Regions from separate parts of the Homo sapiens genome. Here regions 2 and 3 are each linked to region 1. The links come from fine-mapping of genetic effects on plasma protein levels. A gene starts in region 1. Each other region holds a variant in brackets. All regions are shown on one strand. Distances are from middle to middle.

Region 1 (10,093 bases):
ACCACCCAAAAGCCTTCTTCCTTTTTTCAGGGTCACAGCAACCTTATCCATGCAGTACGTATTTAACAATCCTGAGTTTTCTTAGCCAAGGGTCAGAGACCCATCCCTTGCTGGAGAAGACCTCTTGTCTCATGCCACAGGTGGGGCTAAGACACCTCCACCCCCAGGCTCCTGGCTTCCTGCCAACTTGGGTAGTACCTCAAGCACCAAAAAGATCCAAATACCCAGACAACCCAGCTGCGGGATTAGAAGCATTCAGGGTGCACTTGCTTCTTAAGGTAAAGGCACACAGCCCCAAGAAGTCATCTTTCCTGCCCTGCTGCTGGCAGAGGAGGGTGGCAACAGGAAGAGAGTGGAGGTCTCTGGGAAGGATTTCTTTAGTTCGTCATGCCTCCGATGTGAAGCTTTGCCTCTGAAATTCAATTTTACTTGAAACAACATGGCCAAGGTAGGGCTCTTTAAAGGATTTACTGTGCTTTTCAGATGATTTAAAAATCTTGAGACTTGCGCCCTGCTCATCAGCATCTAAGAAATGTTCCACCTGTCAAACCGTATTGATTACCTGAAGTCATATTACAATCTGCACCACTAGATTCCAACCATTTTTTAGTCTTTGTAGAAAGTGATTTGAAGAAACCTTTTTTCCGTAGGGTAACTGGCACCAAAAGAGCCCCTAAGCCCATGCTGCTGTCTCCATATACAGCCACCCTCTGTCATTCCCAGATTAGAAACTCAATCTAAGGGGAAAAGCACAAGAGCTACCTGACATTCACAGATGTGCAGCTTTACATGAGGACATAAGAACGACACAGAAACCCCCTGCTACCATAGGAGAGCAGGGAGCCCCAAAGTAGAGTGTGATTAAAATCTACAAGTGTCTGCTCATCCTAACTCCAAACATGCCTCCCCCACCCCCCAGCACAGTGACATCAGGTGCTGACAAACTAGCAGAATACACATAATCCCCCATCAATCCTGGCCTGGCAACTCATCAGTTGAACGCATTATCCCACAATGAACAAGCACGGTTTAGGGCTTGCTGGAATGCAAAATTTTAATACAAACCTAACCCCAATCTAGATAAAAATTCAGCTGCCAAGTAGCTTAATCTTCGGTGCCAAATAAACTCCGGGGCCCCCGTTAGTACCCTGGATTATCACTGGTTCATGAGTGAGTGTGGTACTCTACCACTTATGAGTAGCAAAAAGGGTCTTAGAATAAGTGTCACAGGGAGACAACTGCTCTGACGCACACTCAGCAGGGCATGCACTGTACCCGCGCTGCAGACCTTGGAACTGTGCTTGCAGAGCCCTGAAGGTAGGGGGTGTGAGCACCAGCGCTTCAACAGGAGGAAACAGCTCCAGGGTGAAATGGTGCTAGGTGAGTATGGGGCGCCTGGCTGGGGCGTTTGCACCAAGCGAAGTCCAGTCCTTGTCCTTCCATAGACTGCACTTCTAATTCTGCACAGCCCTGTGGCCAGAAAGGGGACGGAGTGTGTCCACGTTCTTGTATTTCACTTAGAATCTATCTCTAGGAGGGCTTGTTGGAAATAAATGGGTCATTGGCTGGAGTTTGGGCAAATCTCTGTTCTTCTGGGGTTTTGACTTGTTCTGGTTTCTCCACAGATCAAAGGACCTTCCATTTATTGGATTCCAAAGACAAAGTCTCCCAAATTGTTATCACACATTGACATTTCTGTTCCACCTTAAAAACAGCATGAAAGTGGGACGCAGAGGGAGCAGGCAAGGCTAGAATGTGCCACCGTGGCACCACATCCCACCGCAAGGGAGAGGCAGGGCCCCCGGGCCTTCCCTTTGCCACATTATCCAATAAAACCTCAAGAGCTCAGTAATTACAGGCACTTTCAAAAGTGAAACAGAAATAGATCTAAGGCCAAAACACTGGCTTGCTTGAGACAAAGGGCTGGCTTTAACTAGAAAAAAACAAAAACAAAACAAAACACAAACCTGGGTTTGGGTCTGTCTTCTGAGCTGAGAAAGCCAGACTGATTTTTTTTTTAATATTATTATGGAACCTGATTATGAGGAAAGAGTAGGATTCACACCAAAAGCCCTTTTTTCTTGTAGGACATAAAATCATTTGATGAAACAGAAAACAGGGTGCATTCTAAGTGTGCCCCTGTCACTAAGTCAGGATGAAAAATGAGAAAATGAGTTCATCGCATCCCCCTGGCCTGCCATGGCTAGGATTGCAGGGCTTCAGTCTCGGCCGAGGGAAACCAAAGGAACCGGACCAGGTTTCTATCCCTGGCTCCTAAAAGCCCGCAAAGCAGCCCGCCTCTCTGGGAACACCATCACGTAGCCCCTGACAGTTGGGAAGCGCATCCATACCAAAAGGCCGCCCATGCTGTCCCCTCCGCAGCCCAACCCCATGCCGGCGCTCCATTTTGAGAGCCTCCTGCACTGGTGAGATCTTGGCTCCCTTGGTTAAAGGCGATTTTTTTCCCCCAGAGAAAGACACCAAGGCGATGAAGGGAAAGAATATCCTTCGCTCTGGCCGAGAGCCACCCGACCCCTAGAGCTGGCCTTGCTGCGTCCGAGCCAGCGCCGAGGCGCCAGAACTCTCCAGAGAGTGAGTCGTGGTAAGAGCTGGGTGCTCGTTCACTGCGGTTCAATTTTACGACTAGTAGGTTTCAAAAGTAAATGTTTTAAATTAAGGTGTGGGACTAGGAGGAGGTGTCCCATGTGGCACCCCCGGCATGAGGCTGGCTGCAAGGGAGCAGGGATGGCAGGGGCTGGGGCTGGGGGTTGTCTAATGCCGAGGCCAGCAGCTGGACTCGGCGTCCCTGGCAAACATCCTCCTCTGGTGGAATTGGGGTCAGCCAGGAGGAAAGGGGTGGCCTTTGGCGGCCGGGACACCCCGGGAGCCCGAGATCTGCATGTGCGGGAAGCGCCAATTTTACGCCGTGACTCTCGGACTCCACGAGCTGAGCTGCATCCTCCCGGACTAGGAACTTGTTGAACCAAAGGGTTCTCAACTCCGCAGTCGCTGCCTCCCGGCCAGGAGAGGGACCCCCACGCTTGCGCGGGAGCCTGGGGGCTGGGGCAGGGCCGGCGCCCAGCGCGGCGCTCTCGGGCACTCGCGGAGGCGGCGCCGCCCGGGAGGTGCTGCAGGAGGCAGCGCAGCTGGCAGCTAAACTTTCTCGAATCTCAGTGCTTCGCGGTTAAGTTAGGGCCAGGGAGAGGCACAAAACACGCCCGGGGAAAATGTAAGGCCCCACCCACGATAAAGGGGAAAAAAAAAGGATTTTAAACAGGAGACGCTAATCCAATTAACACAGTACCTACTGTGTGCGGGGCTTTGGACCAAGAGCTGTCTTCAGTGCGTTCTCATTTCACCTGTCACCACAGCCCCCAAGGGAGGAGCTGTCCTCATTTTAAAGAGAAGCAAACCGCGACCGGGGAAGGTGGCGCGTCTGGCCCAGGTCGCAGTGCGGGTCGCGGGGAGGCCAGGGCTCTCCTCGTCGCCCCATGGCCCTGGGAGGAACGAGCGGATCGCCTCCGCGTGGGCCCCCACCCTTGGCAGAAGCTCACAGGCGACCCACGTGGGCCGCACGGACCTGTTCCCTGAGGGCTGCCCAGCCTGCCCGCGAGGCCCGCCCTTGCCCGTCGGGTCCCAGCTGTCCTCGAGGCTCCTAAGCTACGCACTGCGCCGACCAGCAGGGACAGGGGGCTCTGGGCGTGGGGCTGGACCACCCACACCCACCCCGCCACCCCGCTCTGCGCACAGCTGCTCACACACGACACCCGCCAGGCACCGCTCCCCACCAGCAACTGCGCCCCGACACACAATTCCACAAACGCAGTCCAAAATGTGCACACCTAAGGCACACATGGATGCCCACGAGTACACGCCATTCGAAAGACACACCACCGTCCGCAGTCACCCACAACTCCACCGCGCAGAGAAACGCGGGCACTCCCGGACACACACACGCGCGCACAACACACACGCAAAGAGCCGGATCGCAGCGCTCGCCGGTGCACACGCCGGGTGCACACGCCCGGGGCACACTTCAGCAGCCAGCAGACCGCAGCCCGCCCCTTCCCTACCTGCTCCGGCGCAGGACGCGGTCCGCCGGCTTCCCGAGCCCAAGTTCGGCGCCGGCGGCGGCTGCAGCGGGCCCGGGCCGCTGCCCGGGACAAGCGCGCCGAGGCCGGGAGGAGTGACTAGCAGCGCGGGCCTCCGTGCGCCCGCAGCTGCTGCGCCGGCCCTGCGCTCATCGCCGCCCAGAAAGACAAAAGGAAGCCGGCAGCCAGGGAGGGAGCAAGGTGGAGGCGCCCGTCAGTCCGCCCGTCCGCTGCCCGCCGCCGCCGCGGCCCGCCTGCCAGCTCCGGGAAGGAAGGGACGCGAAGGCGGGACCTGGAGGCGGGACCCGGAGGCGGGGGCCGGGGCGGGGCGCGCGGCCAGAGGCGGGCGCTCAAGTTTCCTACGGCCCCGCCCCCTCCGGGCCCCGCCCCCTCCACGCCCCCTGCCGGACCCTCAGCGCCCGGCTCGGCCCTCGCAGCCCCTGCACCTCGCTGCTCCTCGGCCCTCGCGGCCCAAACCTGGCCCTGCCGGGTCCCAGCCCCCAGTGGCTTTCGGGACAGGGGCGGAGCCGGGCACCGGTTCTGTTCCCCTAACCCTTGGCCTCTGGCCTGCTGGTATAGAAGAGGCCGAGAGGCGGCGCCCGGGAGGGGCCAGCCCTGCGCCCGCGCCCCCCGCCCCCACGCCGCAGGAAGTGGCCCGGGCGGCCTAGGAAGGGGAAGAGCCGAGTTGCCCCAGCCCCGCACCCCCAGCCCCAGCCCCGCGTGCAGCTCGCACCCCTTCCCACGCCTGTTCGGGGGAGAGCCCCGGGCCTGGAGTGGGAAGCCTGGCTCCAGCTCTGGTTACCTGCAGTGACTCCCCAGGCCGTTTAGGCGAGTCCATTGGGCCGCCTCTGCCTCGGTTTCCCCACCTAACCACGGAAGGTGCTCCTCCCTTCCAGGCATCTGTGGTCTTCGAGCTCCACGCGGGAGAGGCGCCGGTCTGGCACCTCCTGCCCAGGGTCGGCGCCTCCTGGCTCTCGGGGAGGGGGGCATCCTCCATCCCCTGCACCTGCCTCGAGAGGAACCAGGGACAGAGCACCCCCACCCCCACCAGGAGCTCCGGAAAAACGGCTTCAGAAGAGCAAATATACACACACACCCACCTCCCGCCCCAAACATCCCCGAAGAAAGGTAACCACAGAAACAGCCAGAAATGTGGAGCTGGGCGATCGTATGAGGCTGAGACAAAACTGTCTTTCTAGCGTCTCTAGGGGAGAGCTTGAATCCCTCCTTCCACTCCTCCTCCACGGAAAACAGAGTGAACTCCTGCTACAGAGGCCGCCAGAGCAACATGCAAGACCAGCTTTGAGGGGAGCGGGCACAGGGCCTTGCAGGGAAGGTGGGCCGAGCCCAGACCCCTCATTCTTACTTGGCTCTGAAGGCGGAAAGGCAAAGCTAGACCTCGAGGAAGTTCCCCTCCCTGTGGGCCCTACAGTGAAGATTACATGAAGGCATGTGGGCGGTGGACCAGAGTGCACCGACTGATGAAGGCGGCCCGGTACCCGCGGGTGCCATGCCTCCTTCTTAGCCAAGGCCACTCTAGCTCCCCGTGAAGTATCCAGGTAGAAGGCTGGTGGGGTTACAGGTGAGAAGCCGTCGGTGGGGTCCAGGAGCCAGGCCTGGGGAAGCACACGTCACTTCCACCCACATCCATGGGCCAGAAGTAGTCGCACAGTCCCACCAGGATGCAAGGGGCTCTGGCAGCTGTGGTCTTCATGAGTGTTTCGGAAGTAAACAAAGCCGGTTTGATGAACACGTAGAAACATCCCTGCCACAGAAACTGAGCAGATTTCTCCCAAGCACACACAGGGCAAAGGGGCAAAGTCTGTCCACAGACTCACAGGAAGGGAGGTGCATGGCAGACACAGGCAGGAGGTGGGGTTGGGGTGGAAAAGTTCAGGGAGGGCTCAAAAGCAGACCAAGGCCTGTTTCTGAAACCCAGCCCACTCACTGGTTCCTCCACACTTGGCCCATGCTGTTCCTCTCCCATGTGACTTTTCCATCTTCCCCCTCCAACCTGTCACCCATCCATCCTTCAAAACTTAGGTCAGTTAGCTCTCACCTAGCCCTCAGCAGCTTAGCCCGCAGATGCTTCCTCTGTTTCTGAACTTCTAGAGAAACACACTTAACCGCAGACCTCTTATTCCAGGAGTGTATCTCTCTCAGATGAGATACAAGTTGGTCCCTTCCCTTGCGTCCCTCCTGTTCCTTCAAGAGGAGGACTGTCTACCCACCCCGAAGCTTCATGGAGAGAGAGCACACCGTCGTTATTCAATATGTAGTTTTGAATTTAACTAGAGCAAAGAAGAAAGCAAATTCAGGTAAGATGTTGTATAATTTCCTGGGGCTAATGTAACAAGCACCTCCAACTGGGCAACTTAAACAACAGAAATGTGTTGTTTTGTAGCTCTGGAGGCTGGAAGTCCAAGATCAAAGTGTTGGCAGGGCTGGCCCCTTTGGAGAGATGTGGGGGGCAGTTTGTTTCATGTCTGTCTCTTAGCTTCTGGTAACCTCATGCATTCCTTGGCTTATGGATGGCCATGTGCGCTCCCTGTGAATTCACATCTTCTCTATATACCTGTCTCTTTTCCCTTTTCATAAGGACACAGTCATTATTGGATTAGGGCACACCCTAATGACCTCATCTTAACTTGATCATCTGTGCAGACCCAATTTCCAAATAAGGTCACATTCACAGGTACCAAGGGTTAGAAGTTCAGCATCTTTTGAGGGAAACAATTCAACCCATAACAGGTGTCATGCTAGATAAACAATTTGTTTTTCATATGATGACTGTAAACAAGACAGAAGTAATTCTGATTGTTCTTAATATCTGACTTAGTTTTATGACAATTTTTTTCTAACTTTTATTATAATATACACATAACATAAAATTTATCATCTTAATCCTTTTAAAGTGAACAGCTCAGTGGTATTAAATACATTAATGATGTGCAACCAGCACCACCATCCATCTCCAGAACTCTTTTCATCTTGTAAAACTGAAACTCTATACCCATTAAATAATGACTACCTCTCTAATACCTTACATAAGTGGAATCATACAGTATTTCCTTTTTGCAACTGGATTATTTCACTTAGCATAATGTCCTCAAGATTCATCTATGATGTAGTGTATGTCCAAATTTCCTTCCTTTTTAAGGCTGAGTAATATTTCCATGTGTGTGTATACCACATTGTGTTTACCCACTCGTTTGTCAAGAAATCATTGGGTTGCATCCACATTTTAGCAATTATGAATAATGCTGCGACGAACATGGGTGCACAAATATCTTTTCAAGATCTTATTTTCAGTTGTTTTGGGTATATACCCAGAAGTGGAATTGCTGGATTATGTGGTCATTCTATTTTTAATTTTTTGAAGAAGCATCATAATAATACTTTCCACAGTGTACCATTCTACATTCTGCCAAACAGTGCACAGGGTTCCAATTTCTTCACATCCTCACCGCCAGCACTTTGTTGTTGTTGTTGTTGTTGTTGTTGTTGTTGTTGTTGTTGTTGTTTTTGAGACGGAGTCTTGCTCTGTCACCCAGGCTGGAGTGCAGTGGTGTGATCTCGGCTCACTGCAAGCTCTGCCTCGTGGGTTCACGCCATTCTCCTGCCTCAGCCTCCCGAGTAGGTGGAACTACAGGCGTGCGCCACCAGGTCTGGCTAATTTTTGTATTTTTAGTAGAGACGGGGTTTCACCATGTTGGCCAGGCTGGCCTCCAACTCCTGACCTCAAGTGATCTTCCCACCGCAGCCTCCCAAAGTGCTGGGATTACAGGCGTGAGACACCGCACCAGCCCGATTTTGCTTTTTGATGCACCAAATTTTTATGAAATCCAATTTGTCTATTTTTCTGTGTTGTCTGTGTCTTTAATGTCATATCCAAGAAATCACTGCCAAATCCAACATTGTGGAGATTTTGCTCCAAGTTTTCTTCTAAAAATTCTATAGTTTTAGGTTACTTTTAGGTCTTTGATCTATTTTGAGTTAATTTTTGTATATGGTGTTAGGTAAGGGTCCAGCTTCATTCTTTTGCATGTAGATATCCAGTTTTCCCAGCACCATTTGTTGAAAAAGCTGTCCTTTTGCCATTAAGTGATCATGGCACCCTTGCCAAAAATCATTTGACCATATATTCAAGGGTTTGTTTCTGGGCTCTCTATTCTATTCTATTGATCTATATGTCAAGCTTTATTCCAGTGCCACACTGTTTTGATTACTGTAGCTTTGTGGTAAGTTTTGAAATCAGGAAGTGTGAGTCCTCCAGCCTTGTTCTTTTTCAAGATTGTTTTGGCTGTTCAGGGCCCCTTGAGATTCCATATGAATTTTAGGATGGGTTTTTCTATTTCTGCAAAAAATGTCATTGGGATTTGGACTTTATTGTTTCTGAAGTACCTTTACATACACTATCTCCGACATTCTAAAGATTGTTTCCATATTTTACAGATGAGGAAAGCTATACTTGGAAAAATGAAATGTCCAAGGCCACATATTAGAATCAGCAACAGCCAGGTTTAACAGCCAGATTCAGTGTCATTGTGCTGGGCCCACACAGGCTCTGGAAGAAATACTATTCTTTTTTTAATTCCTTGTAGCACTTTAATACTTGAGTGTATATCCACCAGGGAGAATCTTGCAAATAACATTGTTCCAGCGCACAAACTCCTGCCCCAGAATGTTTGAGGAAGTAGAGGCTAGCTTGTTTCTAGGTACTCTTTTGATTCTATTCCCCAGTTTCATTTGTAATTACAGAGTGGAGAAATGCAGCTGCTGGGAATAGCATGGGTGACGCTGACTTAGGGTAGAGGCAGCATCTCTGGCCACCCAACCTTCCCCTGACCCCAGGAGCTCACAGGCGGAGGAAATGCCCTGATAACTCCCCAGCAGCAGCTGCAGCAGGAAACCAAAGCCGTGCCTGGAAAGGGGAGAGTTGGAAATTTACCATGACCAGTCAGCCAGCAGAATCACTGGATCCTGCCTCAAATCTGTAGATGGACCAGAGCTGGGAAAATTGGATCATTAGGTCAGCTTGTTTATCCCTGAGGCACGCTGTTTTGTAACCACTCCTGATACAGATGCTGTGGCCCATGGCTCATCCAGGAAGTGTGACTCAGAGGCAGGTTCCGATGCCACCCCCCCACCCCCGCTCTTTCCCCTTCATCCTTGCAAGCTCAAGATAAACTAAAATATCCCCTCCCCTGCTGTGGACCACCACCACCCCAATTCCTTTGTTGAAGCCCTAACCTCTAATGTAATTGTATTTGGAGATAGGACTTTTAGGAGGTACTTAACGTTAAAGGAGTTGTAAGTCATAGGATTGGTGGTCTTAGAAAGGAAGAGAGAAAAATCTTTCTCCCTCTCCATGCACCAAGGAAAGGCCATGCGAGAACACAGCACAAAGGTGACTGTCTACAAGCCAGAAAGTGGGCCCTTACCAGAAAAGGAATCAGCCAGCAGTGCCTTGATCTTGAACTTCCAGCCTTCGGAACTCTGAGAAATAACTTTCTGTTGTTGAAGCCACCCAGTCTGTGGTATTTCGTCATGGCAGTCTAAGCATAAGACAGGAAGCATGTCCTGGTACATTTTCTTCTATTTCCCATTCCGTATGCCCTCTGCCTCTCTCTAATCTCAAGGCCGGGGTCCTGGGACACTGCCCGGCAGGACTAGGGACGTTAAGGACCTGGTTTTGTTTCTTGAGCAGTGCCTTACCCTCTTGCCCTGCTTCCCTGACCCCTCTACCCGACCGTGGCTGCTGGGGAACAGGGCGGGGTATGGGCCGGAGCGGGACTTGCCAGGGGAGGGCTCCAGAACTGCACTGTCCACTCACCGAGCGGCCTTTGGAGGTACCCAGGAAAATGAACAGGACTCCAAGTCAGATAACCCTGGACTCCCAGGCTCTTCTATAAAGTAGACAGCTTGACCTACGAACTACCTCTTGGGGGGGTCGAGAGCCTTAAATGAGCTAACATTGGATGCTCTCAAAAAAAAAAAAA
Region 2 (10,093 bases), 130 kb before region 1:
CCATTGTGGCAATGTCTTACGGGTAACGCTGGAGCTGCAGGAGGAGGGAAGGACACGTCAGAGCCACCAGGCAGTGGGAGCATCTTGGAGTCCCCACCAGCCTCATGAGGGGGACAGGAAGAGAGCAAATGTGTAGGGAGGAAGGCTGTGGCTCCTCCCGGGGTGGGAAGGTCAAGCCGATGCTGTCACCCATTTACCAAAGCTGAAGAGAGTGACTTCCTTTCTCAAAAGCATCACCTTCCCCTGAACCCTGAGTCCAGAGAAGCCAGGAGCCCTCATGTGGCTGCCGAGTTAGCTCAGGGCTTGGCTTATCACCAACTCTGGTCTCCCTGGGCCAGGGTTGCCAAAACATGAAAGATTTTTTCAGGAGCCAGAGGTTGGTTCTGACTGGAGGGGGAGGGCGGGAAGGAGTGCTGTAGTCCACAGCCCTACCTTCCGGGAGCCTGAGAAGTAGGATGCTGGTGTGTTTGGGTAACTCTGAGCTCCCCAACAAGGGCAGTTCCCTGGGATCCGGGACCCACTATGTTAAGAGAGTTGGCACTGAGTATGTACTGTGTGCCAAGAAATTTGAGCTAGACACCAAGCCTAGAATCTTGGTAAATTAGGTCTTCCATCTTAAAAAGGAAGAAATTCCCGAGATCGCTTAGTGGCAGTGGTGAGCTTGGACTGAAAAGGGGGGTATTCCACTCAAAATCAACTAAGGCTTTGGAAACAATGCTCTTTCAGCCAGTTAGGGAAAATGTAATCCAACAACGGTCAGTAGTGCCAGTGGGGACAGAAACAGCCGCAGGTAATCCCGTGCTACACGTGAGTGGCCCCTGAAACCTCGCTTCTGACCACAGCTTGGCGTAGCCACTTACAGGCCCCAACAAAGCCAGACTTGGGTCTGTGAAATGATGTGGCCAGGCTTGATCAAGTGATCTTCCTTGGCCCTTGTACATGGGAGCAGGCAGGCGAATTTGGCAGGAGAGACCAGAGAACGAGGACAGCCAGACGGTAGCCGGGGCTGTGTCGACACCAGGCACCGTCCTCCAGGAGGCTTAAGTCCTGCTTTGCATTTGGGTATCTCCACGTCATTTTTAAAGATGGTGCTGTCTGGTCGTGCACAGATACTGGGCATTTCTAGACTCGTGACTTGAAGTGAATACAGCTCCACCAAGACCACTTGTGAATTTCTTCCTGGCGTGCTGGCCCCCGGGAGAGGGGATTCAGGGGAATTGAACTATTGGGCAAAGGTAAAGGCAGCCAGAGTGCATTAGAATCACTTAGGGTGCTTCTTAAAAATACTCATTATTGCCCCCTGACCACTTTCCCCAGACTCTGGGGATGGAGTAGTGTTGGAGCAACTGGAGAACCATCTGGAAGACATAAAAGTATCCCCAACTCCTGCTCCAAAATACATTCCAGATAGATGAAAGTTTTAAATATAACAGATTAGACCATAAACCTACTGGAAACAAAGTCAAAAGGCAAGGGACCAACGGCTACAATGCCCGTGAAAAGGACTAATTTTCTTCATATTAAAAACAACAAATCAATAAAGTAACTATGCAATAGAAAGTGGGCAAGGCATAAACTTGGCTCACAGTAAAGTTTTTTTTTTTTTGGTAGGCAGAGTCTCACTCTCACCCAGGCTGGAATGCAGTGGCACCATCTCAGCTCACTGTAACCTCTGTCTCCCGGGTTCAAACGATTCTTCTGCCTCAGCCCCCTGAGTAGCTAGGACTACAGGTGCATGCCACCACACCGGGCTAATTTTTGTATTTGTAGTAGAGACGGTTTCACCATGTTGGCCAGGCTGGCCTTGAACTCCTGGTCTCAAGTGATCCACCCGTCTCTGCCTCCCAAAGTGCAGGGATTATAAGCATGAGCCACCACGCCCAGCCAACAGTAAACTTTTTGAACATGAAGACATTTGTCAACCAAAGGAAACACACAGTAAAACTATGAGAATCTATTTCTCACCTATCAGATTGGCAAAGACAAGAGTTCCCCAGCTCGCGGGGTGAGCAGGTGTGCTCAAGCACTGGGCGGAAAAGTAAATTAGAGCAACAGTCTCTTTGGAGGGAACTTGATAATATCAATAATCCACATTATCTTTGACCCAGCAGTTCTAAGAATTTCTCTGATGATACTCTTCTAAAATTATTCATTGTGGCATCATTTGTAAACAATCTCTTGTACACAAGCAGGTACTGATGAAATTGTCAATGGAACGGGATATACAGTGGTTAAGGAATGAAGCAGATTCATCAGTACTGATAAGGAACAAGCTCCAAGCTAGATTCAGTGAGGATAGCAAAGCAAGGGGCACGTGTAGTATGCTACTGTGTGTGTAAAAAGCAAAATCAAACCCCAACAAACTGTGTGTGTACATACATACTTGCATATGCATGGCATATTTCTGGAAGAGCTTGTAAGAAACGGGTAACAGAGGTTGCCTCTAGGCAGAAGAACCAGAGGCCTGGGCCGAGAGTGGGGACTGGCTCCACACTGCGCTTTTGATATTGGAATGTATTACTGACTTTACGAGGATTGTAAAATAGGTTTCCCGCGTGAAGACATAAACTCAGAGATGAACTCAAGTCACGCAGATAGTGAGGCAGCATTCAAGCCAGGTCAGAGGACCCCAGCATTCATTCGGTGTTTCCCTACCCTGGGAACATGCTGTTAAGCAGCTGGAGGGTGGCTTGGGCAGTGGACTGGCTCAGGGGGACATGGTAGAGTTGCTCACGACCTGGTCCTCACCTTTGCAGGGTCCAGGAGGGCTGGCTCATGCCAACCCAGCTCATGAGGCCGACGAAGGCAGCAGACCCATCAGAAGCCAAAGATGGGAACATTCCTGGCACATCAGCAGGTGGTCAACCCCTCCCTCCCCGACAGTGTCAGGGCCAGGCACTGCCCCTCACAGATAGCCTGCAGCAACCAAGGGCAGGCCAGAAGCCGGTGGGCAGAGCAAGCCACGTGTGCCCCCTGCGGCCCTCTTGAGCCCTGGCTGATGCCCACTTTGCACTTTCTCGTGGGTAGGGCCTGCCCCTTCCCGGGCCTCACTCGGCTTGTCTTGTGAAGTCATGTGCTCGTCACACCCCAGCAGTGACCTCTGCTACTGGGACCACACATCTCTTCGCAGGTTCCCTCCTTACTAGATTTTCCTAAGTGACTCGAAGTGGCTGGCTAGCCCCTTCCGCTTAGGGGGTTTTCTGGCTGTCACCCTGTACCCTCTTTGACATGGGCCCTCCCCCATGCTGGATCTGGGGGTTTGCTTTGCACCATCTCTGGGCCCGGCTGGAAAACTGCCCCTGAAGGCAAGAGTCGACCCATTTCAAATCGGGCTCTGTCCCCACCAGGGATTCCCGAGAAGCCTCAGTGCCTGGGGGTGAGGGGGGCAAGTGGGGGGCTCTGCCTTCTCCGCCTCACCCAATCTCACCCATCGGGTTTCAAGGTAGGACGTCATGTGAAGCAAAGGCTTTGCAGAGTTCTCCCAGTTCTTGTTTTTTACAGATGGGATGAAGCCCAGAGAGGCCAAGTGACTCGTCCAAGGCGAGTCTGTAAGTTAGAAGGAGGGCCTGGGTGTCCTCAGGGCCCTGCCTCGCCAGCCAGCTTCTGCTCCTGGGCTCTTGCTGAACAATGACCATGACTAGAATGCGGCATCCTTCTCTCACCAAGGGCAACGTGTTCCCGGCCCCTGCTCTCTGCCAATCCTATTCCCTGCCAGGGTGGCAGAGGCAGCCCCGAGCACCCATGGCTCCGGAATACCACAGACGGTGGCACCTGGCCCTGCATTCCTGCTGTGGCTTCAGCTTCGGCTGGAGCTGGACAGACGAAGCTGGACCCAGGCCCCACACCTCACTAGGCACTAGCCAGACCCAGGCCCTATGCCTCACTAGGCACAGGGGTCCCCACGGCCGCCTCCTTCTGAGTGGGGGTTGAGCTGGTGCCCCCCACCCACGGCAGGGCAGCTACAAGGGAGGATTGGTGAAGGCCCGAATGCAGGGCACAGAGTGGAAGCGCCTCCGGAATTCTTGCTGCTGTTGGGAGTTCGGAGAATTTTATCCACATGCAGCACTGACTCCAGGCTGGAGAGGGCTGTGACCAGGCGTGCTCTGCCACTGGCCAGGGGTTACCTAGGTGGAGCTCAGTCAGGTGACTTGTGGAGCTCAGGCCCGTGAGCTTGTGAGCTGGGGAGCGGGGGTCTCCAGGCTGGGCCAGCTCGGGGGTGGCTCCGCAGGGGAGGAGACCTGGTGCCCTGCTGGGCGAGGGTCAGTCTGGGCCTGGGTGGTTCCGCCAGGAGGGTCATGCACCTGGCCCTGGGGGTGCCTGTCAGAAGGCCTGGCCCTTCCAGCTTCTCACCCGCCCCAGGGCTGTGCAGGCCCCACTCCCTGGCTTCTCAAGGAGGGTTGCCAGACTTAGCACAAAGATAAGATACTGCACGGGACATATGTCAGCTGCAAAATTGCTTCTCGTTGATCTGAAATTCAAGTGTAACTGGGTGCCCTGTATTGTATCTGGCATTCCTATCTGGCAATAAGGCCTCTGGTCCTGGGTACCGGGAGCCTGGCCTCAGCTTTTGTGTGCCGTTTGGCCCACCACAAGTCAGGGGCTCCTCTGGGCCTCAGCATCCTCCTCTGTCATCAAATGCCGCCCAGGACAGAAAGCTTTTCTCGAAAGCAGGCCCAGCTGGAACCCGCACACCCAAGCCCTGGATGGCCCTCCTAGCTATGGACACCAGGGGGCAGCAGCACCCCGCGGTGGCAGCGCGGTCGGGGCCAGGAAAAGGC[A/G]GTCAAATCACTCGACCACTGGGCAAACACTGATAGCTCCACTATCGCAGGGGGCCCTTGACAGCCACAGGGCTGTGAGACTGGAGCGTGGCCTCGATCCAGAGCTCCCGACTCAGCCACTCCAGGGTCCCGGGGGCTTTGAGGAAGGGGCACCAGGCAGCCCAGTCCCCGACCAGACCACTCCCCTGACCCCCAAAACACTTCCTGAGGCCCCCCAGGTGAAGCCCCCAGCCCAGCCCCTGCACCCCTGCCCCATGTTGTAGAACCAGCCCTGTGTACAGCTGGTGGGGCCCTGCAGCCTTGGTCCTGCCTGTCCCCCTGCCCGTCCCCGAAGTGGCCCCAATCCCCTCTGAGGTGTTCCCAATCCTCCCCTGTGCCCACCAGCGACTGGTGACCCCACCCGGCCTCCCCTGACCACCCCCCATGATAGGCTGAGTGGGCGGAGGGCAGATCTCCCCCCGCCACCCCTCCTGTGGGGCTGGTGCCTGGCACCTGTCCCTGAGCCAGAGGCAGAGCCCACCTGAGGCTGCCTGTGCCGCCCTCCCCATCCCCCACACACTACCACACATGCAAACACACCACACACATCCACAGCGCACACTAAGACCACATGCCCCAGCCTCACACACACCCCACAAGACACCCGCACACATGGCTCCCATGCTCTGCCATCCCTGCCAGGGTGCCTGACCCTAACCCTGGGGCCCCCACCTTCGGAGGTCCCCAGGAACCTGGAGGTCAGGTCCTGCCCCTGAGGACCCTTGCCATTCCCCTCAAGGCCCTGCAGCCCCTCCCTCTGCCCCTGGTTCCCTGACCACATGGTTTACAGATGAAGACACAGCGCTTGTCCAGTGCCAGGCGGCTCATTCGAGGTGGAGCTGGGACTTGGCCTGGGTCTCAGTGTGTGTCCAGGGCATAAGCTCATGCGGTTCCAGCTGCGTGAAGACAGAGCAGAGCCACCTGCTGACCCTCCCTTCATTCATTCATCCCCACTCATTCCTGAGCAGCCTCGCAGGGCTTCAGGGTGGAGACGACCAGAGTAATTTGATGAGGTCACCGAAGGCGACCTCTGGAGGAGGGGACATGGAGGCCTAGGACAGGCCTGGTGCAGGGAAGCTCAGTGTGGAGGGAGGCCACTGTGGGCCCAGGTGGGCCAGGAAGGGGAGCAGGGTGCCCAGAGCCCAGGCCCAGCCTCTCAGGCCACGGAGACAGGCACCCCACCTGGCCCTCCTGGAATGAGCTGTCAGGGCTGCCACTCAACAGCCTCATGTGGCACTCCAGAAGCCACCCACCTGTGGACTCGGGTCCACCACAGCACACGCAATGCCACACACACACACACACACACACACACAGTACAGTACACACCACCACACACATTCACAGCACACGCAATGCCACTCACACACAGCACACACCACCACACACATCCACAGCATACACAGTTACACCATGCCCCACACACCATGACACACACAGACACACATGCATCCACAACACACACATGTACACATAGTTACACCATGCCCCACACACCACCACACACGCAAACATACCACACACATCCACAGCACACACACAGTCACACCATCCCTCACACACCACTACACACGCAAATACACCACACACATCCACATCACACAAAGTCACACCATGCCCCACACACCACCACACACGCAAACATACCACACACATACACATCGCACACACGGTCACACCATGCCCACACACCACCACACATGCAAACACACCACACACCTCGACATCACACACAAAGTCACACCATCCCCACACCATTCCCACACACCCAAACACACCACACACATCCACAGCACACACTAAGACCACATGCCCCAGCCACACACACACCCAAGACAACACACAGACGCACACACACACACCTAGTGGATGAGCCCGCTCGAGCCCGGAGGGCCTGGCTGCAGCTGGAAGAGGCCGTGGGCAGGTGGCTCCAGGGCGGGCCAGGGTCTGCCTTCCCGTGAACTGCAGGAGGCAGGTGGCCCCTTCAGGTCGGGGCCCCATGGTACAGTCACACAGCCCGCTGGGAAGAGCCGGAGGAGCTGAGGCCTTCCAGGGGCCCTCCAGGGGCTGCCGCCCCGCCCGCCCCCGCTGGCCTCAGTCACCCCTCCTCCCGAGCTCCCTCCCACCCTCCCCAGCCTCCTGCCCCAGGCAGGCTGTACCCGCCCCCGCAGCTCCTGCGCCCCGGCAGTGCCCTGCTGTGCCATGCCCCGCGCTGGCCCTGGGGAGGTGTTTGCTGGATAAACAGCTGCCCCCCGGGGCCCAGGCCGCAGTGCTCCTTCGCCACCGTGTCTCCAGCATCACCCCTTCTCCTCTGAGACCTCTTCCCAGGCCACAGTAAGGGAGCCCCAAGCCAAGGAGAGGGCGTGCCCAGCTTAAAGGAAACTGACCTTGGCCCTGCCCTACCCCGCCCCACTCTGGGCCGGGATACATCGCTGCCGACCCGGAGCCGGAGCCCAGGACCAGCGGGCACCAGGCCCCTGCGCCGCAGTGGCGGGGTCAGAGCGGCAGGACTGGGTGGCTGGTGACAGGTGGGACTAGCGCGGGACCACTTGCCTCTCGAGCCGAGCCCCGCCCCTGCCCCACAGCTCCATTTTCTTCTTGTTCCTTTCAGGGCTGCCAGGCTGCCCCAAGCCGGAGTCTGTTCCCCGACGGCCGAGGCTCCCGCTGGCTGGCAGCTCCCCAGGCGTGTGGGTTTGATTCCCAACGGCGCCCAGCCCAGGGCAAGGCGGCTGGGGGAAGGCCACGCCACGGATGAACCCAAGGCCGAACTCCTGTTTTTCTAAATACCTTTTCCGGGGCCCACGAGGTCCCTCTCAGAAGCCTGAAGGTCCTGTGGGTTCTGTCTCCTCTTGGGGGGCTGTGATCCTAACTGGACCCCCGTTTTGGGTCCCTGCTCATGCGCACCCCTGATCTCAAGAGGCAGATAGAAGATCTAATGACGTACCTGCCTAAGCCCGGCAAGGAGGGGAGGGTTCCATTCGGAGTCCAGTGCCCCGCCCTGAGAAACGGGCGCTCAGGAGGGCGCCCCTCAGGCAGTGGTGGGGAGGCGCGCCCCCTTCTCCACTAGGGCGTGACCTGGCACGGGGTGGGGAGGGAGTCAGGCCTGGGTGCCACAAATACAGTGCGTTTAAGTCTTGTTCAGGGACCCAGGGAGAAACTCCTTCATTTCTCTAGACACCAGGGGCCCTGAAGGAGGCCGCTGGCAAGGAAACATGGACCCGGCTCCAGCCCAGCTACTGGAAGACCTTTCTGGAATCGGGAGAAGACGCACCTCGGACTTGGGAGCTGATCCTTCTTTCAATTCCTGATTCTGCCACCTCTTGCTAAGGATTTCAGGCTAGTTACTTAACTTCTCTTAAACCAGCATTATCAATCTGTATAATGTGGTAGTGATACCACATTGCAGGGTTGATGGGAGGGTTAAATTAGACGTTTAAAGTTTTAAACAGTGTCTGTACGTGGAAACCCTTGATAAATGGGAGCTAATGTTTTGCTAGCTCAATGCTGGTTCCCACGCGGGAGGCCAGTCTACCCAAGCAGAAAATGCCTGGGGCTGTATTAATTAAGGCCTAAGGTTCAGAGTAAGGGAGGTGACAGTCTTGCCCTACTAGGGGTTCATCGTGGCCTGACTAGATGAACTGTCTTGGGACTAACACCTCATACTGCCACCCTTCCCTCCACACTCCAGGGCTTCCTTCCTTCGAGTCTAAACATTTTCCTGTCTCAGGAGTTGTTCCCATTACCCTGTATTTACTCAGTGAGCATGGGACACCATGCAGTGAGTGTCAGGACAGCTGGTGGATGGGACCATGGAGCCACCGGAGCCATTTTCCAGAGTTTCTGTTGAGTCCACCCACATAAGCCTTGCTTATGCAGGTACATGATTAGATCTTCTATCTGTCTATAGGATAAGGGACACTTGTATGCAACTCCCAAGGAACTTTAACAACTTGGAGTGCCCGTGCAGGATGGCAAAGGGTCTGGGATCCCCTGGGGCAAGGAGAAGGCAGGACAAGAGAGAAGCTTGCAGAAGGAGGTGGTTGGAGGAAGAGGAAGCAGGCCCAGGGCCAGTACTGCAAATTACCAGGGAAGGACAGGTGGAGACACTTTCTTTCTTTTTTTTTTTTTTTTTGAGACAGAGTCTCTGTCACCCAGGCTACAGTGCAGTGGCACCGTCTCGGCTCACTGCAACCTCCGACTTCTGGGTTTACGCCATTCTCCTGCCTCAGCCTCCTGAGTAGCTGGGACTACAGGCGCCCACCACCATGCCCGGCTAATTTTTTATATTTTTAGTAGAGACGGGGTTTCACCGTGTTAGCCAGAATGGTCTCGATTTCCTGACCTCATGATCCACCCGCTTTGGCCTCCCAAAGTGCTGTGATTACAGGCGTGAGCCACCGCACCCAGCCGAGACACTTTCTAACAACCCGCCCTGAAAGATCCTGATCCCGGACAAAGGAAGAGACTGAGGAGGCCTCCTGCTGGGTGGGTGGCATGGACGACAGTTTTGGGTTCACTTCTGGGTTCTTTCCTCCTCTGATAGGCTGGGCTTCTTGGCACAGGGACACCATCTTTGGGGTTCAATTCCCTGCCTTCCCAGAGAGCACTGGACTCCTGGACAAATCATACTGGCTTCTGTGAGCTCCTTGTAGGGCAGGGTCCACTAGGATCCCCATATCTACCTCCTCCATATCTGAGCAGAGGTGGTTATAATGGTTAATTTTATGTGTCAACATGACTGGGCCAGGGGGTACCCAGACATTTGGGCAAACCGATTATTTTGGGTGTGCCTGTGAGGGTGCTTTTGGATGAATTTGACATTGGAACTGGTGACCAATGGGGGAACCAGGTGGGGTAAAGCAGATCCCCCTCCCCAATGTGGGGGTCCTCATCCACTCAGCTGAAGGCCTGAATAGGACAAAAGCCTGAGAATTTGTTCTTTGCCTCACAGTCTTGAGCTGGGACATTGGCCTCCTCCTCCCTTAAGATTCAGACTGGAACTACACCATTAGCTCTCCTGGGTCCCCAGCTTGCTGACCTCTGTCTACAGGGGACAGGGCTGCTTGTCTCCTTGGGACCTCTCAGCCTCCATAATCACGTATAAGCCAATTCCTTATGATAAATACATCTATCTAACCATCCATTCGCCTACCCATTCATCCATCCATCCATCCATCCATCCATCCATCCATCCACCCACCCGCCCACCCATCCATGCATCCACCCTCCCATCCAACCAATCACCCACCCATCCATACATACATACATCCACCCAC
Region 3 (10,093 bases), 98 kb before region 1:
TGCTGATGACGCCTGGTGATTTGGCATGCCAGCTCCCAGGCATCTTGGAGCGCATTCTTCCTGGCTCTTTGTGCCAGCTGCAGAATGACTCAAGCACTGACCCATGCCTGGGGGGAAGATCTACGCGTCAGATGGCAGAATTCCGTCTGCAAATTCCACCCTGATGTTCCAGGCCAAGAGGTGAGCAACAGCCCTTCCCCAGGGAACCGTGTTTCACCCTAGCGGGAGCAAAACTGAGACTACGGGGCCAACTCTGCTGTCGAGTGCCTCAGCCTGCCCTGCCAGCACCCAGCACGCCCTGGAGGGGCCATGGAGGGACAGGCAGCTCTTCCAGGGTCTTGGAGCCATGCCCTGGAGTCAGGCAAGGCTGGGCTAGAGTTGCCAGTGTCAACGCTCCAGACCCAGCCTGTTTGCTCCTCTGTAAAATTGAACCAGAATGCCAGCTTCAGGGGCCTGCAGTCAGGATGAGGGTGTGTATATGAGGGGTGCTGCTGGGAGCAGCCCGCAGACCCAGGGGCCCTGCTGGGGGCTCTGCCCAGCCTGCCCCGTCTCCAGCCATATGGTCCTGGCTGTCTCAACTTCTCTGGGCCTTATTTTCCTTGACTGTAAAATGGGAATAAGGGTCCCTGCCTGCAGGTTCTACTGAGCAGTTGTGAGGATAAAGGGAAATGGAATCTGTAAAAGGAGTGCCAGCTGGAAAGCACCAGTCAGATGCCTGGGGTATTGGCACAGCTTTACAAGAAAGGCGGCCATCTTGGGAGCCGATTCCTGACACTGAGCACAGCCCGGCGGGAGGTGGGGGCTGCGGCCTGGGCTCGGTGGAATCTCTGCACTGCCTGGCGAGCCCTTCTCGCTCGGCACACCCAAGCAGCGGCATTAAAACCTGGTCCTGAGGCCCAGCTGGGCAGAGAGCCTGGGACCACGGTGGCCTAGACACATCCAGCTGGGGCAGGGTGAGTGAAATTCCAACTCCTGTTCTTCAAAGAGAAAATAAAGAAAAAGGACAGAAGAAGCCCAGTCATGCCACAGCAGGGCAGAGCCCACTCGGTCCAAGATGCAAGAACTGCCCGACCCTGGGGCAGCAAAGGAGCCCGGGATCTGGGGGCTGCTCAGCGCCTGCAGGGCATGGGAGTGAGGCTGGGGCTGCCTCAGGGCATGAGGTCCCTCCTCTCATCTCCGTCTCTGGGGAGTCTGTGGCTGCTGACTGCTTTGGGTCTGTTTAAAAGGAAACGCAGCATCCTGCTGACCAGCACAGGCCAGGCTTTCTGCAGGATTTTGCAGACAATGTAGGAGATGGTCCCAGACTTACCCAGAGCGCTGGGGCTGATACCTGAGCTCAGCGGGGCTGGGGAAACACTCACCCAGCAAAGACGGGGTGAGGGGCATTCCAGGAGGAATCCTCAGTGTGCTGGGAGGCAAAAGGGCATGGCTGGAGAAGGGCTGGCGGGGACACAGCTGGGGAGGAGGCCAGAGTCTGGCTAAGGTGGGAGCTCCTTCCAGTCCCAGACTTCATCCTGGGGTGTTTTCAAAGTGTGTAGGTGTCAATGACTCGCAGGCCCAAACTTTTGGGGAGACCACCACCAGCAAGTAACTTGTCCCTGCTACAAACCTCTGGGCTGGTGACCTCTGCATGTACCTTCATGGGTAATGAATGGACAAATGATAGAGAACATTATGGAGCAGTGTATAGAGCAATAAAGAACAAACAGAATATGGAACAAATGGGTACATTAACAAATGCAGGGTATGGGGAGGAGAGGCAGCCAGAAGAAGGAAGAGAAAAATACCATCGAAACTTAGGAATTCAGACCAATTACTTGAATGGTAGTTCAAATTTGTAAAGTCCGAGTCAAAAAAATACCTGAAAAATTGCCTCTGAATTCTTGATCAGGTAAGGACTGGAAAGAGTGGGCGTTTGTAATGAACGGATAAGAACTCTTTGTTGGCCGGACTCGGTGGCTCACACCTGTAATCCCAGCACTTTGGGAGGGTGAGGTGGGCGGATCACCTGAAGTCAGGAGTTCAAGACCAGCCTGGCCAACATGGTAAAACCCCATCACTACTAAAAATACAAAAATTAGCCAGGCATGATGGCAGGCACCTGTAATCCAGCTACTCAGGAGGCTGAGGCAGGAGACTCATTTGAACCTGGGAGGCGGAGGTTGCAGCGAGACAAGATCACACTACTGCACTCCAGCCTGGGTGACAGAGCAAGACTCCGTCACACACACACACACACACACACACACACACACACACACACACACACACAAAAGAACTCTTTGTTATGAGGGCATCATTTTCAACTGCAGAATGGAGCTGGAGGCCTGGGTGACAGTGGCTATGTCACACACCCTGACGGCTCTCACTTTCCTCATCAGGGTCCAATATGTGTTTGGACAGTGTGGCCCCTGAGGTATGAGCTAGCTCTAAAAAACATCCTTGAGAAAAACATTTAAAAATAAAGAAAAATAAATAAATAAATAGAAAACTTCTTTGAGTCTATCCCCAGAGGAGGCTTCCAAAGCACCTGAGGAGCTGCTCACTGAGCCAGGACTGGTGTCCCTCTCCCCGGGACCTTGTTCAGCAGAACCAGCTGCCTAGCTCTTGTCTTAGTAGATGGTAAAAAGCAACATTTCTGCCAGGTCCCTGCTTGAGAAATGACTAAACTTGATCAGTTCATGAGCCCCAAAGGAACTATTTCCAAATTTTGAATTTATGTGTCCCAAATGAATGGGGTTTGGCCACATTGTAATATATCTCGGGTGGAAACCATTTGTAAGAAATACCATTGTAAATGTTAGACTGAAGAGGTGTTTGTGAGACGCGCGTCCTCCCTGGGGTTTTGCGCAGGCTGCATGGCTCTGTCTGCAGGGCAAGGTCCACCCTGTGCTGTGCTGCCCACGGCTGAGCTCAAGGTGGGAGGGCTCTCAGGTGCCTGCCTGGTGTCCACACCAGCACACCCGTCAAAAACTTTTTCTTTAATTCTTTTTTAAATTTGGAAGGGAACCTCCAGTGAATCATCACATGCATTATTTGATTCATGTTTAATATCTCTGGGAAGCAATAAAAACAATAAATCATTATTAATAAAATGGCCTCAGCCCGGCTGAAACGCTAGGCACAGAATGGTGATGTTCCAGCCGCCCTCGGTGGCCCCAGCAGCTACAGTCTGGAGTTAACTGTTGGCAAGTGACTTATCCATGATCACCCAGGCCTCTGACTCATAGAGAGTGTGTTTATAATCAGGAGTGGGGCAGCTCATAAAAGCCACTCTTTGCCATCTTTAGTCTTTAAATCACAGCACCAGAGGCCACAGATTCTGCAGGGAGAGTTGTGGCAACGCACCCACCCATACACACAAAGTGTAATCAACACGCAGTCACGGAACACCCCTTACATGCAGGCCACAATGCTAAGTGCTGGGAAGACACCGAAGTGTAAAACGCCCTCAGAGCGCTTCCAGTCTGGTCGGGAAAGCAAGACAGGAACTCCTTCTTTCCTTCTCCTACCAAGGTTCAGTTCCTGGCCGGGTGCGGTGACTCATGCCTGCAATCCCAGCACTTTGGGAGGCCGAGGCGGGCAGATTACCTGAGGTCAGGAGTTCAAGACCAGCCTGGCCAAGATGGTGAAACCCCGTCTCTACTCAAAATACAAAAATTAGCCGGGCGTGGTGGTGCGCGCCTGTAATCCCAGCTACTCAGGAGGCTGAGGCAGAGAATCGCTTGAACCCAGGAGGCGGAGCTTGCAGTGAGCTGAGATCACACCACTGCACTCCAGCCTGGGAGACACAGCGAGACTGTCTCAAAAAACAAAAACAACAACAACAGCAAAAGCTTCAGTTCCTGCTCTGAGCCTGGCGCCGGGCTTGGGTGCTGGATGGCAGAGGGAGACAGCATTCCAACATGGACCAGCAGCCTCAAGCCTCCAGCTTCCCAGCTGGGCCCCAGTTCTCTCCTGACCCTTTTCCCAAGGACAGAGAGCTGGGTTCCATTTACCCAGGGTGTGGCTAGGAATAATCCCATAACCAATTATTAGCACAGCGCCTAGAACACAGGAAGCACACAGTAATTGTTTGACGAGAGGCAGGAAGGAAGTCAAGGAGGGAGAGAGAAGGTCCGGGTGATCTAGGCGCTCCTTACAGACAACTTCCAAATCCTCTGCAGATCCGGCCTTGGAATAGTGGATCTTCGGCCACCGCGGCACTGTCTGTGCACCCTCCGAGAGCCCCATCAGACACATTCTAGCCCAGATAGTCTCTAGCCTCAGCAAAAGAGCCAGTTTCCCGGAGACCCTCTGGGGGCCTAGGAACACCCAAAAGAACAGATATTTGCTAAACATCGTCTATGATCCCAGTGATTACTTCTAAGCTAAAAATTTGCACATGGGGTCTGAGAAGTCCAAGAATATTCTAGGGGGTAACTGAGAGAAAACGTGTAATCTGGGCTGTCCCAGAAATACCAGGCCCTGTGCCTGGTGTGGTGCTGGATGCCTGGGGAAGGGGAGCAAAGATCACTGTGGACTCCACCTAGAGAGGCCGGTGACATGGGTGGGGAGGAGCCTGGCTGGCTCGGACCTGGCCTGGAGACCCGGGGCCAGCAGGCAGCAAGGTCAGGGGAGTGTCCTTGTGCAGCCTCGGCTGTGGCTGCCTGTGTGGCTGAGCAGACTAAGGGGCAGGTCAGCCGCCCTTCCTTCCACCTCTGCCTGGCATCTCCCAACCAGATGGGGAGGCTAGGCCGGTCTTGCTCATGTGGGATCTGGATGCAGCCCTTCACACAGAGCCCGACATGGAGCAGATGCTCCGGAGATGCTGACGGCTAGGATTCCCCCGCCAGGCACCTGGCGGTCCTGCAGAAGGGCCAGGACAATGTCCCCAGCCCTCCACCAATTCCAGGGCAGATGAGAATGCCAAGTTGTGCCTGCCCACAATGTGTGTATGTGTGTGCGTGTGTGT[A/GTA]TGTGTGCATGTGGGTGTGTACGTGTGTGCAGGCACGTGTCTGCCCACAATGCTTGTCAGACAGGATCTGCCCTCCGTGGCTGAGGGCTGGAGGGGACGACCACAGGAAGTGATACTGCCAAGTCATCCCAAGTCACCCTAAATATAACCCTCAATGTACAACACAGGAGGATTGTCCCTTCCCCGCTGCCCTGCCTCATGACCAGCGTCTGCCTAGGAGGGCACTTCCAGAAAGGCCGCTCAGATGGCTCTCTGAGATGCCCGCCTGGGATCCACGGCCTGGCCAGCACTAGAGGGGAGGCAAGCCTGGGGTCCTGCTCTTCCGGCCCCAAATCTCCATGGCCCTGTTCATCTAACTTCTTCCAGAAGAATTGTTGGCTACACAAATCACTATGAGCAACAATGATCTCTTAAGCCTGGGAGGAGGCATCCTTATTTAAGGGACACAGAGGGCTGCCGTATGGTGGGGGTCTGGCTGTGCCGAGATGCTGCTCGCACCTGTCTTCCTCAGCGGTCGGGGTTGCCAGCGTCCTGCCCCTCAGGTGTGACCCACTCCGACCTGGCTGAGCCGCCTGCTCGCCCCCTCCTTGCCACGGGTGCACGTCTGCCACAGGCCCTTTGCACCAGCTGCTCCTTAGCTAGAAGCACGCCCGTCCCTGACCTCCTGCAGGCCTTTGGTCAGGTCTCATCTCAGGAAGGCCTTCCCCAAGCACTCTATCCAAAACCGACACTCATTCTTTATCCCCTTTCCAGCTTGATCCTTTCTCTCATTTCTGTTTTGTTGAGTTCACTGTCTGTCTCCCCTTGAGTGGAGCTCAAGGTCCTTGGGGCCAGGTTTACTCTGGTCTGTTCTCCATCAGAAGCCCAGAGCCTGGAAGCTTGTCTGACACAGGGTACGTGCTCCATGAACCCACCTCAAGGGAAGGAACGCATGAGTGTCTGGGGACGTGGAGAGGGAGGCTGGTAGGGGAGGCTGGGACTCGAGCCTTAGTATGCAGGTGCTGCTTCTCCACTGCCCGGGGAGCGGCCTGCTGTACATGACCAAGGGCCAGGGGCAGAGAGAAGCGGAAGGCCCTTCCAGTGCCCATCACCTGACCCACAACATCCACGGCCAATGGTGTGAATGTGCTGGAAAGTGCCTTCTGATCCCAGAGTCCCTCAACTCGTGGTGGTGGTGGTGGCGGTGGCGGTGGCGGTGGTGGTGGCGGTGGCGGTAGTGGTGGCGGTGATGGTGGCGGTGGCAGTGGCGGTGGTGGCGGCGGTGGTGGTGATGGTGATGGTGGCGGTGATGGTGGTGATGATGGTGATGGTGGTGGTGGTGGTGATGGTGATGGTGGTGGTGGTGGTGATGGTGGTGGTGGTGGTGGTGGTGGTGATGGTGGTGGTGGTGGTGGTGGTGGTGATGATGGTAGTGGTGGTGATGGTGGTGGTGGTGGTGGTGGTGGTGATGGTGGTGGTGGTGGTGGTGGTGGTGATGGTGGTGGTGGTGGTGATGGTGGTGGTGGTGGTGATGGTGGTGGTGGTGGTGGTGATGGTGGTGGTGGTGGTGGTGGTGGTGGTGGTGCAGTGATATTATTTGCTGTGCGTGCACTGAAATGCCCCAGGGGTCTGGGGATGGGAATGGACACCTCGGACCACCTCCTCTACCCTCTTCTGATCTCTTCGCCTGCTCCAGCTTCTTGACACGGGTATCAGCCTCAGCACGACCTGCCGGGCCAGGCGCCTCCCCTGTGCACCCGTGCTGACAGTGGCCTCGGGCCAGGACATTTGTATGCAGGTGACATCCAGGTAACACGGACCCAGATGTTCCCCCACTCTCTAGCTCCAGTAAGGCTGGTGGATGGAGAATGAAGGAGTGGAAGTGGCCCCTTCACATGCAGTTGTGTCTATTTTCTGCTGAGAAAAATACTTTTTTCTCAGCTAACCACACGCTAACTGGCACCCTGAGGCTGAGGCCCCAGCCTGGATGTCTCCTCCCAACCCAGCAGCTACTGTGGCAAGGAGAAAGCGGAAGGAGAAATCGCCTCCCTCAGGAAGAGGAAGGCAGGAAAACCCACCCCACCCACGGGATGCAGATCTAAGGGCGGGGCAGGGGACGGGCAGAGGGTGGGGAGCTCACTTTGCCCTGGAAACACCACGTGCGTGCGTTGGTGCCCAGCGGGAAAGCAGCCACGCCCGGGGTCTGCCCTGGGCCCTGGGCTGACCGGCTGCGGGACTCACATCTACCAGGGCCACAGATGAAACCTGCCACTGGTATCTGCCCTCCACCCCTCACACAGCCCAGAACCCCATCATGAACACTGAAATTAAGACAGTGATGCTTTAACAGGTTTTGGGTCCAAATTTTAGCCTGGCTGAGTATTCAAAGGTGGTTCCTTCTGAGTGGGAAGATGAAAATTATAAAGAGCATCTCCCGTGTCTAGGGCCAAGAAAATTCCAGACTTTTGGAAAGCGACTTTGTATGAGGACTTGGAGGACTTTAATCCTTATACAGGACCCTGCCAAACTCACCAGATGCAAGTCGGTGATGAGGGCTCTCAGGGGCTGGGCATGGCCAGATGGGGCTCTGTCCCCAAATGTCCCTCCCCCAGGTGTCCCCCCGGGAGCCTATGACAGCTGACCCTTGCTACATCCATGGCCCCAACTGATGCTCACAGTATGCAGGAGCAGGTGGGGCAGGGTGGTGAGTGACAAGAGTCACCATAATAGTCATGAGACCATGAGAGGGAGGAGGGAGAGAGAGGAGGAGCTGTGGGGCAGCCAGGTCCTGCTGGTCCAGATACCACAGGGACACTTCACTCCAGGTCTGATCTCGCATTGACCCTGAAGAGGGTGTTTTTATCAACCTTAATATGCACGAGATTGGAAGGGGCTGTGAAGAGGCACAGCCAGAATTACACACTCTCCAGCATCGCATACCTGGTTCCTTGCTTACAAACAAAACCAAACCCTCAACGCTGGAAGGGCAGCCCCACAGCATGGCTGGCAGGCTCTCCAGACCCGAGGGCAGCCCCGGGACATGGCCAGGCCTTCCTGTCTCGGGAGCTGGCAGGATGACCAGGGTCATGAGGAGCCCTCCCGAGCTCACGGAGTTAGCTCAGGCAGGGCCAGGAAGGATTCCGGATGGAAAAAGCCCCTAAGCCAGGCTAACACTGGGGGAGAGGCGACCAGTGGCCAGGCCAGGGTGGTGCATTCAAGCTGTAAGCACTTTGCCCTCCCTCAAGCCTTCCTCGCACCCAGAGCAGGCAGGGGCCTGGGGGGCTGCAGGGTGGCGGATTCAGACAGACCCTGGGCCCGGCAGCCTACGGTAACTGCTCTGAGGGGAGAGCCACATGCCCAGCTCCCAGCGCAGACAGCTTATCTGGCGTGGGTGGGGGTCCAGAGGGCTGAGTGGCCCTGACCATGCACAGGAGCCTGGGAGAAGGAAGCTTCCAGGTACAGGGGCTGCAGGGGATAGAAGACAAAGAAACCCGGACACTAAGACAGTGCCCTCCTTGCCCTCACCCACACGTCCTTCTCAAAGTTCTGGGCCCCTCATTCCCCTGACAAATCGCCAAACAGAAGCACCGAAGGTCACGCGATTTACCCAGAAAGACCTGGCCAGCTTAGGGCGAGAGCTGAGATGGCTGTGGGGCCTGGGGGGCTGTTTCTCTGCATTTCCGAGCCGCAGTTTCCTGACCTGTCTAGGGGTGCTAGCTGGGCTGCCCCCCACGCCCAGTCTTCCCTGCTCTTTCTGCTGAGCTGGGTCCAGTCCCCACACATGGGCAGGACCCCACGGCACAGCAGGAGCCACCCACTTCCATCCTCAGTCCTCACCCACCCTGAGCCAGTCGGCCTCTGGGAGTGACTTACCAGAGACCAGGCGGAGGCTGAGAGGGAGTGGGTCAGAACCTCCAGGGAGTGTTTCCGCGTCCTGACTGGGCCACTAGACCATGCCCCTGGAAGAGAAGAGCGACAGGTCACGCAGGCTGTGACGACCCGGCCCGGAGCCCATGCCCCTCCCTCTGGTTGCTTCTGTGGTGCCTGCTGGGGGATCACAGTTTTTGCAAGTGCCATGCTACATACAGAAAGCCCTGGCTCCCGGCCTCCGGCCAGCCACCATGGACAGGGGCACATGCCCAAGGCCGCTGCACCCCAGCAGGCGAGAAGCCCAGGACAACGTTGATAGAAGCCCCAAGGTAAGATGCTGGCCACCCTTCGAGTGAGGTTGCTGGTTACTACAAAACTGGCATGGAAACTAAGTGTGGCCGGGACCTCTGTGGTCCACAAACTCAGGTTCAAATCCCAACAGCATTGTCACCTGGGGCCATCACAGACGCACAGCCTCCGTCCTCACCCAGCACTCTACACTCTGCACCCAGGGCTGTTACGAGGGTTCAGTGGAATCAGGCACACCCAGGCCTGCCACCCACGACTGTGCCCTGCTCCCTTCAGGGTCTCTCCAGCCTCCACGGTTTCTTGACTGGCATACCTGGGTTGGCCCCTCATCACCCGACCTCCTCCTTGAGGCCCACATTGCCCCCAGCATGCCTCCTGGGCCCAGCACAGGGCACACACTAGGTGCTCAGGAAGAGGTCAGGACGCATCACCTGACATTCAGCCCGCAGCTCAGCTCAGAAAACCATCCAGAGACTGAGAAGGAAAATTTGCATTGCGGGTGTCTAGGTGCTCGGCCACTCCCACCCTCAACCCTCACTGCCAGCTCTGGCACAAGCGTTCCAAGCACCTTTCACGTGGCGTGAACTCGGGACGGGCCCGCCTCCCTCTTCTCTGCCTGCTCCCCGGGCATGGATTGGTGACTCCTCCTCCGTGAACCTGCAGCCTCTGGTACATATGTGTATTAACAGTGTTGAGGCCGACAGCTCTATACAACCAGGCTCCTTGCTAAAGGCTGTCTATGCATTTGTACTCATTATCCAACGTAATCCACACAGCAGCCCTGGGAGGCAGGCACAATCATCATCCCCATTTGACAGACGGGGAAAAATGGAGGCTTACAGGAGCTAATTACCTGCAAGATCATGTGTCTTCCAAGGGGCCGAGCCAGGATGGAATCCTGACAGTCACTTCACCTGACGGCCCGTTTCTCTTCCGCATCTACCGCACACTCCCTAATTACTTTCTCCCAACGCAAGGTTC

Direction of the effects. Positions count from the first base shown, and alleles are read on the strand shown. Strength reflects both the effect of a copy and how common the allele is.
For the plasma level of the protein whose gene starts at base 4,347 in region 1, G is the low allele of the variant in region 2 and A is the other (weak association).
For the plasma level of the protein whose gene starts at base 4,347 in region 1, A is the high allele of the variant in region 3 and GTA is the other (weak association).

Evidence for each region. PIP is the posterior inclusion probability: the model's chance that the variant is causal. Protein levels are from antibody-based Olink assays in UK Biobank. Linkage for the fine-mapping came from a reference panel and not from the study's own genotypes, which makes the PIPs less certain.
Region 2: its variant is fine-mapped to the plasma level of the HPCAL1 protein (UK Biobank, PIP above 0.99).
Region 3: its variant is fine-mapped to the plasma level of the HPCAL1 protein (UK Biobank, PIP 0.93).

Annotation. Positions count from the first base shown.
Region 1 is chr2:10,297,158-10,307,250 of GRCh38, reverse strand. It overlaps HPCAL1 (hippocalcin like 1), which reads right to left and starts at 4,347. Exons shown (of 5, transcript NM_002149.4): 1 at 4,074-4,347. It overlaps LOC101929691 (a long non-coding RNA gene), which reads left to right and starts at 4,534. Exons shown (of 4, transcript XR_922791.3): 1 at 4,534-5,673; 2 at 6,238-6,409. RefSeq lists silencers at 3,453-3,632, 3,951-4,148, 4,033-4,812, enhancers at 3,713-3,772, 9,034-9,328 and a cis regulatory region at 8,827-9,439.
Region 2 is chr2:10,429,756-10,439,848 of GRCh38, reverse strand. LOC124907732 (a long non-coding RNA gene) reads left to right here and starts at 7,036. Exons shown (of 2, transcript XR_007086214.1): 1 at 7,036-7,151; 2 at 7,992-8,263. RefSeq lists enhancers at 4,606-4,655, 5,300-6,264, 6,265-7,230 and a silencer at 6,925-6,984. The variant A/G (reference allele first, on the strand shown) is at 4,779.
Region 3 is chr2:10,395,634-10,405,726 of GRCh38, reverse strand. It overlaps HPCAL1 (hippocalcin like 1), which reads right to left. Exons shown (of 5, transcript NM_002149.4): 2 at 8,807-8,892. Among named protein-coding and RNA genes, the nearest start is that of SNORA80B, 46 kb to the left of the region's middle. The variant A/GTA (reference allele first, on the strand shown) is at 4,955.